2 linked regions of the Homo sapiens genome follow. The protein of the gene in region 1 interacts with the protein of each later gene in a pairwise test. Each region holds a gene or a part of one and is shown in the gene's direction. Other genes may lie near its edges.

The links. The genes of interacting proteins can lie anywhere in the genome.
Region 2: the proteins of PMP22 (region 1) and SPACA1 interact in binary tests that used the Homo sapiens proteins (3 or more experiments, as listed by UniProt).

Annotation. Positions count from the first base shown.
Region 1 is NC_000017.11:15,255,300-15,262,326, reverse strand, and holds part of PMP22 (peripheral myelin protein 22), read left to right. Parts: intron 1-1,191; exon of another isoform or gene 1,192-1,368; intron 1,369-1,506; exon of another isoform or gene 1,507-1,565; 5' UTR 1,566-1,599; coding exon 1,600-1,677; intron 1,678-3,133; coding exon 3,134-3,233; intron 3,234-7,027. UniProt on the Homo sapiens protein: Might be involved in growth regulation, and in myelinization in the peripheral nervous system.
Region 2 is NC_000006.12:88,057,820-88,064,846, forward strand, and holds part of SPACA1 (sperm acrosome membrane-associated protein 1 precursor), read left to right. Parts: intron 1-896; coding exon 897-1,003; intron 1,004-1,633; coding exon 1,634-1,769; intron 1,770-6,260; coding exon of another isoform or gene 6,261-6,279; coding exon 6,280-6,400; intron 6,401-7,027. UniProt on the Homo sapiens protein: Plays a role in acrosome formation and establishment of normal sperm morphology during spermatogenesis. Important for male fertility.

The DNA of each region.
Region 1 (7,027 bases):
CTCCCTGGGGCTTCTGTTTAGGGGCACAGGGTCCCCTGTGTGTCCTGTTTCCCTCCAATGGGTCTTGGAGTAATACAACGAGGAGAGCCTTTATGGTCTATAAGACCTTACAGGGCAAGGGTGATGGTGCTGGTGTCTGGATAGCGGATAAGGGCGGCCCAGTTCTCGCCTTGCTGAAGAGGCGTTGACTCTGGGACACACTGGCAAAACAGTCCCTGTGGCGGACATCCCGAGAGTGTTGGACTCCTGTGGTTCCCCAGTTCCCAGCCTCCTGCCATCGGCTTAATTCAAACCCTCTGGGAGTCATCAGAAATCCTTGTTTATTTCTTCCAGTGCATTCCAGAGTTTCTTTGAATGTGATGCTTGTGGAGAGGAACAGAGGGGCCTGGGATTGGGTACTTTCCAAACTGGGTTATTGAAACGTTGTCTCCCTGGCCCAAGACTCTGCCTAAAATGGTCCCCAGAGTCTCAGCCAGATCTTTCACAGCCATGCATGTCCTCTAACAGGTCATCCCAGCCTTCAGTTCCCCCAAAGTTTAAAATGAGGGGCGAGGACCGCATTACTTGGGATAAATGTCCTGCCGGCTCTGACCGGCTGAAATTCTCGGACTCAGCCTTTTACCCTCTGTCTCTCTCTCCCGTCCGCTGGACATCTACTCCCTTCGGTCCAGGCTCCTGGGCTCCTGTCCCACCGCACCCAGACCGGAGCTCAGGCTTGTTGGGGTTCGTGTCCTGGCTTTGAGTGCCTGGGGTGCAGACTGGACCCCTAGGCGAGCACGTGGGTCTAGCGCAAGAGCAGAATGCCCCCTGACCCCAGGGGCTGCCTGGGGAAGCGCGCGGTGGACGGGAAGCGCAGGGTCCGGGCAACCCTCTCGAGCCATTCTTTTCTTTCCACACTACTCTGGCTCTGCACCACCTCTCCGGAGCCGCCAGAGTCTGCGCGAGGCTGAGCTGGGGCCAGGACCGTTCCTCTACGCTGGCAGAGTTGGGTGGAAACTTGGAGACAAACGGAATGCGGAGAGCACTGGGGTCTGGGAAACCAGCCTCCTCGCCGCTGTCTCCCCCACCGCATGCCACGGCTGTCTCCAGGTCTCAGACGGAAATCTGGGCACCTACTCCCCTCACCCCTACCTCCACCCCATAGGGGAATTCACCATCTGAACCGGGGTCTCGGAGAACGTGACCTCTCACCTTCCAGGGAGGTCGCCGGGAGGTGCTTGGGGTGGGTGGAAGCGTGCAGTGGCCTCTGCTCATATTTTCTGGAAACCCCTCCGTTCCCTGGGTGGTTTTAGACGTGCGAACCGCTTGTTTTGTTTCCAAAAGCAAAAGATGTTCCGTTGCAGGCGGGCCCGGCTGGGCGCTGGGCACTGGGCGCTGGTCCTGCAGGCGGCTGCTGCCCCCTCTCGGCGGCAGGCGGCGCGAAGGCTCCTGACCCGCGCGGGCGGTCGGGCTGCGGGCGCTGGGCCAGGCCGGGCCTTCCGCTAGTGCGCGGGACCCTCCCTCTGCGCGCGCCTCCGTCGCTCGGCCCAGTGCGTTCGGCCTCACGCCCAGCGCTCTCCTCGCAGGCAGAAACTCCGCTGAGCAGAACTTGCCGCCAGAATGCTCCTCCTGTTGCTGAGTATCATCGTCCTCCACGTCGCGGTGCTGGTGCTGCTGTTCGTCTCCACGATCGTCAGCGTGAGTGCCTGGCGGGGAGGCTCCCTGCGCGGCCCGCCCTTCCCCATCTGGGTTCCCAGCCCGTGCTCCTGCTGGTTCAGGACTGTGTTATTTGCAGACAGTTGGAAGTCTCAGACGTCCCAGGGAAGTTTCTGGCAATCTGCCCCCTTCCAGTTGCTTTGAGAAAACGAGAGCAGATTCAGTGATAGGAACCAAGCGAGCGCTGGGCTGGGTTAGCTGCGCAGGTCTCTATTTAAGCCAAGTAACTTCAGAGCCGATCTAGGGTCCCCGACCTTCATTTGACAAGATTGTTTAACTTTTTTTTTTCTTGATGCAGCCTCGTTGAAGAAGAGGAGTATTTATGATTTTTTTTTCTCCAAACCATAGTCAGATGGGTGAATTAATTTATAAAACACCCTTTTAGGACTTGAAATTGGAAAGTTAAAATGGGCTTTTCTGGAAAAGAGTTCACAGGTCCCATGTCGGCTTTATGGCATGAACACAACACATTGTTAGTAAAGCTTCCACTGGTAGGAACAGGCCATCAGAGTAACTTCTGTTACAAAACTGTCCAGCCCATTAGATCTTAAAGTTATTTTCTTGGCGATGAAGATGAGCAGACATTCAGGCAGTTTTCCAGTGGTGGCTTTCACTTCTTAATTTAAGGCACATTGTAAGCATGATTTTCTTTTTCGTTTTCTTTTCTTTTCTTTTCTTTTTTTTTTTTTTTTTGAGATGGAGTCTCCAGCCTGTCACCCGGGCTGGAGTGCAGTGCCATGATCTTGGCTTACTGCAACCTCTGCCTTCCGGGTTCAAGCCATTCTCCTGCCTCAGCCTGGGATTACAGGTGCCCGCCACCACGCCTGGCTAATTTTTTTTTTTTTTGTATTTTTAGTAGAGACGGGGTTTCACTATGTTGGCCAGGCTTGTCTCAAACTCCTGACCTCATGATCCGCCCACCTCTGCCTCCCAAAGTGCTGGGATTACAGGTGTGAGCCACCGTGCCCGGCCTGTAAGCATGATTTTCTAGTCTCTGTGAGAAATAATTATGTTGGGGATTTGTGACTTAGTTTAACATTTACAAGCATCTTCACAGTATCTCCATTGTGCCTGGTGATGATGATATCAGACTGATAGGAGCTATAAACAAGGAAATAGACTGAGAGAGGCGGGCTTGGGGAATGATCCCGAGATGCTGGGAGGAGAGAAGGCTTGAATGCAGGTGTCTAAGGTTGAGTTCATGGCTCCTTCTACTATAGTAAACATCTCTGCACATAATCGTTTCTGTGTGCATGTGGAACTTCTCCATTTACAAGGTGCTTTTAAGTCATAAAACGTTGGCTCTTACCATGCAGGGGTGGGCGGTGTGGCTAGGTGGATGCGGGTGCTTTTCGCCATCCCTGGGCCTTTCTCCTTCCCCTTTTCCTTCACTCCTCCCTCCCTCCCTGACTCAGGATATCTATCTGATTCTCTCTAGCAATGGATCGTGGGCAATGGACACGCAACTGATCTCTGGCAGAACTGTAGCACCTCTTCCTCAGGAAATGTCCACCACTGTTTCTCATCATCACCAAACGGTGAGGCTGGTTTTGTGCTCCATGAGCTTGTCCTCAGACGCCTGTAACACGTTTCTCAGCCCAGAGCTGGAAACGCTTATTGGAAGACACAAGCCAGAATGTCGTTGCTGGGGTGGGGTGGGATGTGACAGGGAGCCATGAGTCCAGGGAAAATGGGAGGGGTGGTGATCTCGCTGGGGAAGCTGAGATCCTGGGCATCATTGTGATTCACTCTACCTAGAGACATGCCCTTAGTGCCCTCCTGATCACTTAGGATAATGCTTTTTGTGATTGAAAAAAATATCGACCTGGGAGCTGTGAAGGTGGTATGATAGCTAAGCCTTTGGCAGACCCCCTTGGGACATTGGATCAAACGTGTATCTTTGGTTTGGTGGCTGTCTCTATTCAGAAATGTCCTGCCCCTTTCTGCTGCAGTGACAGTGGGGCTAGCTCACTGCACCGTCAGTTACATGGACACAAGACTGGCTGCCTTTCCAGGTCTTGGGCCTCAGTGATGCCACCTAGCATCAAAACCTTTGAATGTTTCCTTGTTGCAAGATGGGGACTTGAAGCTATTTGCAAAACCCTAAGCTAAGCCTTGGGGTCCTTAATCCAGAAGATCGTATTTCTCCTCTGTCCTCAGCATCTTTGCTTGTGAGATATGGAAGCCAGGCTTCATGAGGGTCAAATTAAGGGATAATTGGCAGCAGAAGCACCAACTAGGTACCCAAGGCACCCAGAGGGAAAGGAACACCCAGCCAGGAGCCCTGTGTGTTTGGATGCAGACAGGTGGAGGTAAACAGGATGAGCTGTTTTGGTGGCTGGGTAGGCCATAGCGATTGATGTTAAGAGCCCGTGGACCTGGATCCACATGATCTTTTGTTCCAGAAGATGTGTCCTCAGGCTGGAAGGACCTAGAGATACAGCAGAGCTTTCCTAACATCCTGGGTTTAAAAGGCCACGGAAATACAGCTTTAAATGTTGCTGGAGCTACTCATAGATCCAGTATATATGTTCAAGATGCTACACCAGACGAGAGAAACCAGTTTAGATCCAGTTCAGTAAAACAGGCAGTGAAGTGGCCTTTGGTCCTGGCTTTGCATAATCCAGTTGCTTTGCTGGACTTTCCCTCTTACAGCTCAGTACCCAGTAATACCCAAGCATGTCCCCAGCTGAAGCATTATAAACCAAATTCCTTGAACCACAGTACAAATAGAAACTGCTAAAATAATAATTTGGTAATTTACATGGAGAAGATACGCAAGGAGTAGAAAACCCTGCTTTATGTTTTTACCTTCTGGGTTGGGGAGGGAGCAGAGAAAAGGTCCCAGTCCTATTGGAGTGAGAACAGTGCTTAATCTTGTCTCTGAGTGTGTGAAAGGCATTGAATTAAAGCCATCCCAGAAATTACGTGGTGGGTTTGCATGGTGAGTTGGCAACTGAGTAAATGAAATACTCATGAGTGCCTGAGAATGTGACCGTAGCACTGCTTGTCCCCAAAGCCACAGCATCCGGTTTCTCCCCCTTTAGGGTCTGGCTGAAGTTCCCGGAGCACTCCGGATGGGAGTCTCCGTACTCGCTACTGACACCTGGTGGTTACAAGTAGTGACTCAGCCCGAAAAGGGCAGGCTTTGGTGCTCACAGGCGCCATCCCCAAGTGGCATCTGGCCACGCGGCTTGGCACAGAATCCTGGACTCTTGGGCCCGGAAGGGGGCAGTTTTGGCAGGCGTGTTAAAACCCGGCGAAGTTTCAGCAGAAACGAGGCGGCAGAGGAGTTGCTAAGTTGTGCTTAAACCATCTGCAGGAAAGAAAGCAATATTGACCTGTAGCATGTTACAGATTGACATTTGGTGTCTTCTGCCGTTGGAAATAGCTGTCAGTTGGTGCTAGAAGCAGATCTCAAAGAGGCACTAGGGTTATTTTAATCAGGAAACTTCTTATCTCTCAACTTGTTCCTTCTGTGCCAAGCTCATGTTCTTGAGTTCATTTACAATGCCTCCTTAGTGTGGGTTTCAAATCTGCCTCGTTGCTTTCCGTGAGGACCCCAGAGTGTCTGTTTTCCACATCTCCCTTCTCAGCTCTCACAATCAGGGCATTTTGAAAACATCTGGACACTGCACCTGAACATGCTGGGTTTGTTTTCACGCCACTCAGGCTTAATCTAAATTTGAAATTTCCATTTACACTTCCCCAGTAGTGGTTATCTCTGCCGCTATCTTCCCCAACGTGGCAGCACTTGCTACGACTTCAGCCTTAAGTGGCGAATCCTCCAGGGCCTCTTTGATTGAGTTTAACAATTGTGGCTGCAGACAATAAGCTGAAAAAAATGTGTACTTTTTAAAACATTATACTGTCTTTACAAATGAACTATGCTCATTGCGAACCATTTAACTTGTCTGTATTTGCTCTTAGAAAGTATATTTGAAAAAAAATACTTGTTAAGTAATCAAAAGTAATTTGTTATTGACATCGATTTGTGAAGAATATGTTGCAAGTGTGAAAAAATAAATAGTGGTGCAATCTCGGCTGACTACAACCTCCACCTCCTGGGTTCAAGCGATTTTCCTGCCTCAGCCTCCCGAGTAGCTGGGATTATAGGCGCCCAACACCACGCCTGGCTAATTTTTGTATTTTTAGTAGAGAGGGGTTTCATCATGTTGGGCAGGCTGGTCTCGAACTCCTGACCTCAGGAGATCCACCCACCTCACCTCCCAAAGTGCTGGGATTAGAGGTGTGAGCCACTGCGCCATGTGACTTGGTATTTTTTTCTGAAAGGACTCATTTTTCTGGTGCATGACCATGACACTTCACCTCTCTCTGGGGGTTGCCACTCATGTTGTTTTCTACATGAATGGGGCCTCCTGGCATCGTGCCATGAGGCAGTCTAACATCTAGGTTGTGTAGTTTGAAAGAGACACACCAGATCTTGCCCCCAGGCTACATCTTAATATTAGAAATAGTTTTAGATTTTTAACTAACTGACTTTGACTCCGCCTGCCTTCTCGTTTTTCTAAATGTGTTTGTATACTTTCTGGCACCCCCTCCTTATCTGCCTCGTGTGGGCAGAGGTAAGAGAGGCTTAGTGTGGGGATATTCGTTATGATATTGTATCCAGTGCCTCTCCGGCCCAGGGAATACAAGGATCTGGAATGCATGGGCCTTGCCTTGATGGTCCCGAGCCTGGTCGAAGAGTCAGGAGATAGATATGGAAGGGTGAATCACTCCCTTGGAAGGCAGAGCAGGCCAGGTGCCCAAAGGGAGGCAGGCAGACAGCGTCTGAGTTCAGGGAGGAAGCGGATGGGAAATCTCTGGTGGGAGGTAGAATCTGATCCATCCTCCAAAGGATGGGCAGGATTTAAGTCAATACAGGCAACGGGGAGGAGAATATTCCCTGTGACCTAAGGTAAGGGTAGAACAAGGCAGGGGATGGGGTAGACTGGTTGGCTAGTGTTCTGGTTAGGATTAGGATTGATTGTGTATAAGAGAACATCTTCAAATGATAGGGGCTTAAGTAAGATCATTTATTTTTCTCTCTTTTCAAAGAAGTCTGGAAGTAGGTAGCCTGAGAGAGGTATGGAGGTTCCATGAAATTGTCAGAGATGCAGACACTTTCTAGCTCATTTCTTTGCCATCTCTTGGGTTTGGCTGTCATCTTCAGGAAACAAAAGGCTGCTAGAGCTCCAGCCATCTCATCCATGATTCAAGCAGTAGGGTGGAGAAAGGAGGTGGGGAAGAATGAATCTCCTTTTCTTTTAATGAAATGTGACATGGTCACACCTACACCTATTTACAAGAGAGGCTGAGAAATATAGTC
Region 2 (7,027 bases), on another chromosome or scaffold:
TACTCAAAGGAAATCATAAAATTTTAAATTCCACTTCTTCAAACAGTTATAGTTCTGAGCAACTTTCTGATTTTGCTTCACATTTTTTCAGAGACATCTAAAATTGAACATATATTCTCTATAATACACTGGAGGCTTACTGTATATAGGGTCTATAGTTGAGGCTGTCCTGTGGCGAAATGCTTTTGATGCTTTGGTCATGTCATTTTGTCAGTAGATTGGTAGACTTTAAAATGGGAACTTTGACAGCTGTTCCATATCACATTATGCTGTTCTGAAATTTCAGTATCTCTAATGGGAGTCCCTAACCAGTACATTGGAAGCCACTAATAGATCTCATAGTTTAGTCTAACAGATCAGTAGGTCAATTACAACTTATTCTGCATAAGGAGCAGAGAGCCATGGTGTCTCCTCACCTGCTTCTTTTGGTGACTTTATCTTTGCACCTATCAGTCTTCTGTTCCTCTACACTCAAACTCCTAATTATGTTTGATAACTTCCAGCATATAGTTGATTTTTAAAACTGGAGGTTGCTTTTTAAAGTAGTATTGTGACACCTGTAATCTTAGCACTTTGGGAGGCCGAGGCAGGAGGATCACTTGAGCTCAGGAGTTTGAGACCAGGCTGGGCAACATGGTGAAACCTCCATCTCTACAAAATTTTGTTTTAATTAGCCAGGCACAGTGGCATGTGCATGTAGTCCCAGCCACTTGAGAGGCTGAGGTGGGAGGATGGCTTGAGCCCAGGAGGCAGAGATTGCAGTGAGCCAAGATCATGCCACTCTACTCCAGCCTGGGTGACAGAACCAGATCCTGTCTCAGGAAAAAAAAAAGTAATTTCGTGTATAAAGCAATTTATAATGCCCAATGGTATTTATGTGCTTAATTTTTTTTCAGGGGGTAAACCAATTTCAGAAAGTCTTGAAAGTGTTAGATTGGCATGTATTCACACATCTCCCTTAAATCGTTTCAAATATATGTGGAAACTTCTAAGACAAGACCAAGTGAGTAATGAATGGATATAACCTGGTGCTTTCTAGTGAGTGATAAAATTTGTTTCTCAGTTCTGATGGCTTTCAGAAAACTTTCTTTTTAAAAGCAGTTTGCCAAAACGAAGTTAAGAATTATACAACTTTATTATTTTGGAATTTTAAAATTTTCATTATTTACTAGGACTAAACTTTACATAAGTCTAAGGGCCAGCTATAATCAGAACTTTAAAACGTCTATTTTACACAAAGTATTCCATTTCGGAAGGAAGGTTTTCATTGGCTTATATAGGAGTTGTATAATGATAGCAGTGGCTAACATTAATTAAGGGTTTATTAAGTGCCAGACATGACACTGAGTGCTAGAGCCTTTTTTCATCCATATAACAATTCTCTGAGGTAATCACTATCATTAAACCCATTTTTACAAGTAAGTAACTAACTTGTCCACAGTCACACAGGCAGGAAGTGGTAGGGTTGGGATTTGAAGTCTGGATTGTGTGACTGAAAATCCATGTAGATCATTAATTACTCAACTAGGCTAAGAGAGACAGTAACCCTCCTTTCCTTAAGGGAAATAAATTGTTTCCTGGTAAGTGTACATGAAAAATGTTGATACTTTGTTATTTTTTTCTTTTTAAATAGCAATCCATTATACTTGTAAATGATTCAGCAATCCTAGAAGTACGCAAGGAAAGTCACCCCTTGGCTTTCGAGTGTGACACACTGGATAATAATGAAATAGTAGCAACTATTAAATTCACAGTCTATACGAGCAGTGGTAAGTGTCCAGCAATGTCTTGGTTTGCTTATATGCCAATCTTTAAAGAGCATTAAAATCACTTAGAGGCTTGTTAAAACACCAGTCTCTAGCCCTCCCCCCAGAGTTTCTGATTCAGTAGATTTGGGATGGGACTGGAACAAGAATTTCCATTTCTAACAAGTTGCCCTGTTGCTGCTGGTCCAGAGACCACACTTTGAGAACCACTGGTTTACATCATTTAGACTTTTCTAAAAGATACTACTTAATTTCTTTTTCACAAAGTAGTCACAATTTCCTCACTTTGGGAAACTGGTGTATTTCTTAAGTGTTTTCAGAGAACAGTCCTCTAACTTGAATTATATTCTTGCTTTTACTTTCATTATAAAAGTGAAAATGGATAAATGGAATTCTCATGGATGCTTATGAAAATTTTCATTCAGTAAAGTAAATAAAATTAAGAAATACGATGTCAAAGTATGACTCTTTAAAAATTATATATTTGAAACAAATGTTTTTTGATGAAGCACTAATACAGTTCTCAAAAATGTATATATCACAAAATGCAAATGTTGTCCTGAATGTCATTTTATGTATTAGAAACCATATTTTCCTTGTGAGATAGATCCATTTGCCTATATTCAGTTTAATCTATGATGGCTTACATATCCAGGTAATTATTTCCTTTTGTTCAGCTGCTCTTAACTGTTCTAATTGTTGTTATCAAATTTGTTGTTAGGGATGTGGGGACTTGGTCACAAGTTCTTTTCAGAATCCTATCAAGGCTCAGGATCCTTTTTCCAGAAAAATGTCCACATACACAAATATGCCAAAAGTTGCATGTAACTTTAAAGGAGTTTTTGGACTTCTTGAAGCTATTTCTGAACACAAAGAGCTTCTGCTGTAGTTTAAAGATACCGCACAACGTAACCATTTTATTGAAATGAAAACAGGTTAAAATATTTTAGGGTGATTTTAAAAAATAAACTACTATTTAAACTTCCTTTGATATGCTGTTTAATGAGTTTAGAAACATCTTCATGGTGAAAGCTAATAATCTTATTCCTCTATTGGGATATCAGGTGTCGTTAAAAGGATCATTTTCAATAAAGCTCTAAAAAAGGCAAGAGAATAAAAACATCATTAAACTAAAAAATATCTCAACTAGCCCTCGTTCATGATATTAAAGGTGTGTGGAGCCATTCTCAGTCTTTGTCCTACTATCTCGTCCCTGTTAGGACAATTCAGTGTGGTTAACTCCTCTCATAATTAGAAGGGAGCATGCATTTGGTAATGTATATGTTAAAGGCTGGAGCACAGACCCTAAAATGTCAGGCCTTTATTGAGACAAAGTTAACTTCTCTCTCTCATAGCAGCAGTCCAGGAATGGTGGGATAGCTCTGCCATCTCAGTACGTGCACTGATTGAATGACAAAATATTTTAAAAACACTCCAGTATCTACTAATTTCTTTAAACATGACAATTGGGTACACCACTGCAACAGACCCCTTTGGCTGATTAGAAATCAAACAAATGTTTTGGCTAGAAATGTCTACACAATATGGTACTAGCATGAAACAAATATGTAATTGAGATATTTTTAGGGTAAATATGGTTTCCCTAGTGAAAAATTCTCATCCATTCACTTAAATATCAGATTTTTCACTCCCACAATAGTTGTCTTTCATAATTAGGCATTGTTAAAAAAGATACTTTGAAGTACTCAGAATGTGACTCTATTTGGAAATAGGACTTTTTACAGATGTAATTAGTTAAGATGAGGTTGTACTAGAGCAGAGTGGGCCTTTAATCCAATATAACTGGTGCCCTCATAAGAAGAGGAATATTTGGGCATGCTTGTGCGCACACACACACACACACACACACACACAAACACAGATGGAAAGTGGGGCGCGGAATGCCAGGTGAAGACACAGAGAAACAGACATAGGGAGAAGACAGCCATGTGAAAATGGAGACAAAAATTGGAGTTATGCTACCAGAATCCAAGGAATTTCTGAGCCTACCAGAAGCTGAGAAGCTGTAAGAGACAAGGAAGGATCCTCCCCAAGAACCTTCAGTGAGAGCATGGCTCGGCCAACACATTGTTTTCAGACTTCTAGCCTCCAAAACTGCGAGACAATACATTTCTGTTGTTTTCGTCACCCAGTTTGTGGTACTTTGTTATGGTGGTCCTAGGAAACTAATAAGTACATAAGCTTAGTTTATCTAAAAGGTGAGAGCATCAAATTTAGCCTATTTTTCATTAAATACTTCAATAGGAAATTGAGCCTATTTTTTTCATTACCTGTAAAAATAGTCTAGGTGACCCTTGCAAGACTACTGTTGTAATAAATAAAATCTTCATGCCCCTCACTCTCCACCCTCTCTCAGCTAACATTGCAGAGTAATGGATAAATGAAATTTGCATTTCTCCTTGTCAGGTGTCAGTTCTGAAAGGTGTTTTTTATTTAAGTTTCCAAAATGCCACCACTTGTGTAAATCTAAAGTTATTTTGAAATAAAAAGATTTTTAAAAATCCAACAATGTTGGAACGTAAATATAGATGTATTTTCTCTAGCATACTTGGAACTATTTAGCGAGATCCCTAACTTGAGTTTATAGCTCTAGAATTACTAGGCAAAATGGAAACTTATACTCCATGATGTCTAACAGATAGGGAAACAAATCCAGAAAAATAAGCAGTTGAGATTGCTCATATAGAAGACTAGTTCTGACAGAGTAGTACTTATCAAAATCAAAGTATTTAAATAGTCAAAATATACCTTGTACAAATTAAACCTCCCTGGGCCTTGGTTTACTTATCTGTATAATGCAATAGTTGGATCAGATGATCTCTGTAGTTCTTTCTTCCATGAATCTTTTATGATTCCAGAATTTGGGGTCATAAAAGAGATACAATAAAGCTATGTAATTCACAAAGTAAGTAATATTCTATGTTAATTGGCTTTTTACTAGTTTACAATGTAGCAATACTGTAATACATACGGTAGATTGGCTTTGTCTCTTTGATAACCTTATTTGCTGAAAGAGCAGAGAGACATGGGAGAGAATGCTTGAGGTAAGAGTGGTGCATGAGGTGGGTACAGTGGTGTGTGCCTATAATACTAGCTACTAGGGAGGCTGAGGTGGGAAGATCACTTGAGCCCAGGAGTTCAAGGCCAGCCTGGGCAATATAGCAAGACCCCATTTCCTAAAGAGAGAGGGGTCGGGGTATGTGGATATGTGTATAGAAAACAATGAGCTTCAATTCCTTTCTTACAGCAAATATAAAAATTAGAGAGGTATCATAGTCTTAAGTGTAAAAGCTAAACCCATAAAGTTTTAGGAAAGAAATATAGGAGACTATTTGCATGATTCAGGAGTAGGCAAACGTTTCTTAGACATAATTCAGAAAACAATCACCATAAAAGGAAACATTGAATAAATCAGACTGCATCAAAATTAAAAACTTCAGCTCATTAACAAAAATCATTAGGATAATGAATAGGCAAGCCAAAATCTGGTAGAAAACATTTATAAAACCTGTACAGTCAGTACAATCAGTTTGAGAAAGTTCTCATGGTTTCTTAGACAGCTAAACACACATCTGTCTACCCTACGACCCAGCAATTCTATTATTAGACATTTAGCCAAAAATTAAGATATATATTCACAAAATGACTTGTATAAGAATGTTCATGGCAGCTTTATTTATAGTATCTCACAACTGGAACAGCCTAGATATCCATCAGTAGGAGGATGAGTAAACAAATTGTGGAGTATACCTAGTAATAATAAAAAAATGATAGTTGCATATAACAGTATGGGTGAATTTCTAAAACATTATTCTAAGTAAACAAATCTTTACACAAGAGATTACCTAGTGTGTGTTTCAATTTATATGTAGTTCTAGAATAGTCAGAGCTAATCTATGGTGGAAAAGAAAATCAGGATGCTTGTTGCCTCTGGAGGATGAGGAAGGAGTTAATTAGGAAGAGGCTCAAGGGAACTTTCTGGGGTATAGTAATATTCTATATCTTGACTAACATTTAGTTACATATATGAGTTTGCCTTTGTCAAAACTAAGCAAATGTACATTTAAGATCTTTGTGCAATTCTTTGTGTGAAAATTTTATTTCAAAGAAAAAACTAATATTAAACTCCAGTTAACGATATGCTTGCTGAAAAATTTTTGAGGAAGTGTACTGACATTTGCAAATTATATTGAAATGCATAAAAATAAGATGGATTAATGAATTGATAGAGGAATGGATAGATGAATTTTAAAATATTAATGGTAGTATTTAGATGGTGGTAATACAGGCTGTTCGTTGTCAAATTCTTTTAACTTTTTTCATGTTTGAAAAGGACATTTCAAACATGCAGAGCAAGATCATTAATAATTTTCTCTGCACTAAGCATTTCTTTATGTTTCTAGAGTTGTTTTTCAAATATAAACTTTTAAGTTAGATATTCATTTCCTTTTCCTCAGTAGTAATACTCCTTAGGTTTGTGTGTTTTCTCTAGAATTGCAGATGAGAAGATCAAGCCTACCAGCCACTGATGCAGCCCTAATTTTTGTGCTGACCATAGGAGTCATTATCTGTGTATTTATAATTTTCTTATTGATCTTCATAATCATAAATTGGTAGGTGAATAGTGGAATGCATCATCACCCTTGATTGACATCCTCTTCTTCCCCCTCCTCATCCAGTGAATTGCAAAGCCCTGTCCGTGATGTCTCCTACATGTTGCCTTGAAACTGTCCATCGCCTTTCATTACTCCTGTGACTGCCCTAGTTCAGGCTGCCCCGTCTCTTTATGTAGATGCTTTTTAAAACAATCTCATGACTTGCTTCTCCAACTATGAGAGAGCTTTTAAATGCAACTTTTACAATTTTACACGGTAATTGCTTTAAAAAGTTTTATTTAATGAATATTTGTGTTGTCCAGTTGTGGTTCTCTCAACTCTAAAACTTGGTTATTGTAACCTACTAATTCATTTGTATGACAATATTTATAATACCTACATGAGTAGTACACCCTGGTAAGTCTGAGGGCTCATATACTATCGATTTGTAGCTGATGCATCGCAAACTAAAAATGAATAATGAATACAAAGGCACTTCTTAGAGAAGAGGTAATATATATGTTTTATATATATGTACATATATATGTACATATATTGTATATACAATATACATATATCTTCTATGTACATATAATGTATATACAATATACATATATCATATATAGGTCATATGTGTGTACCAAA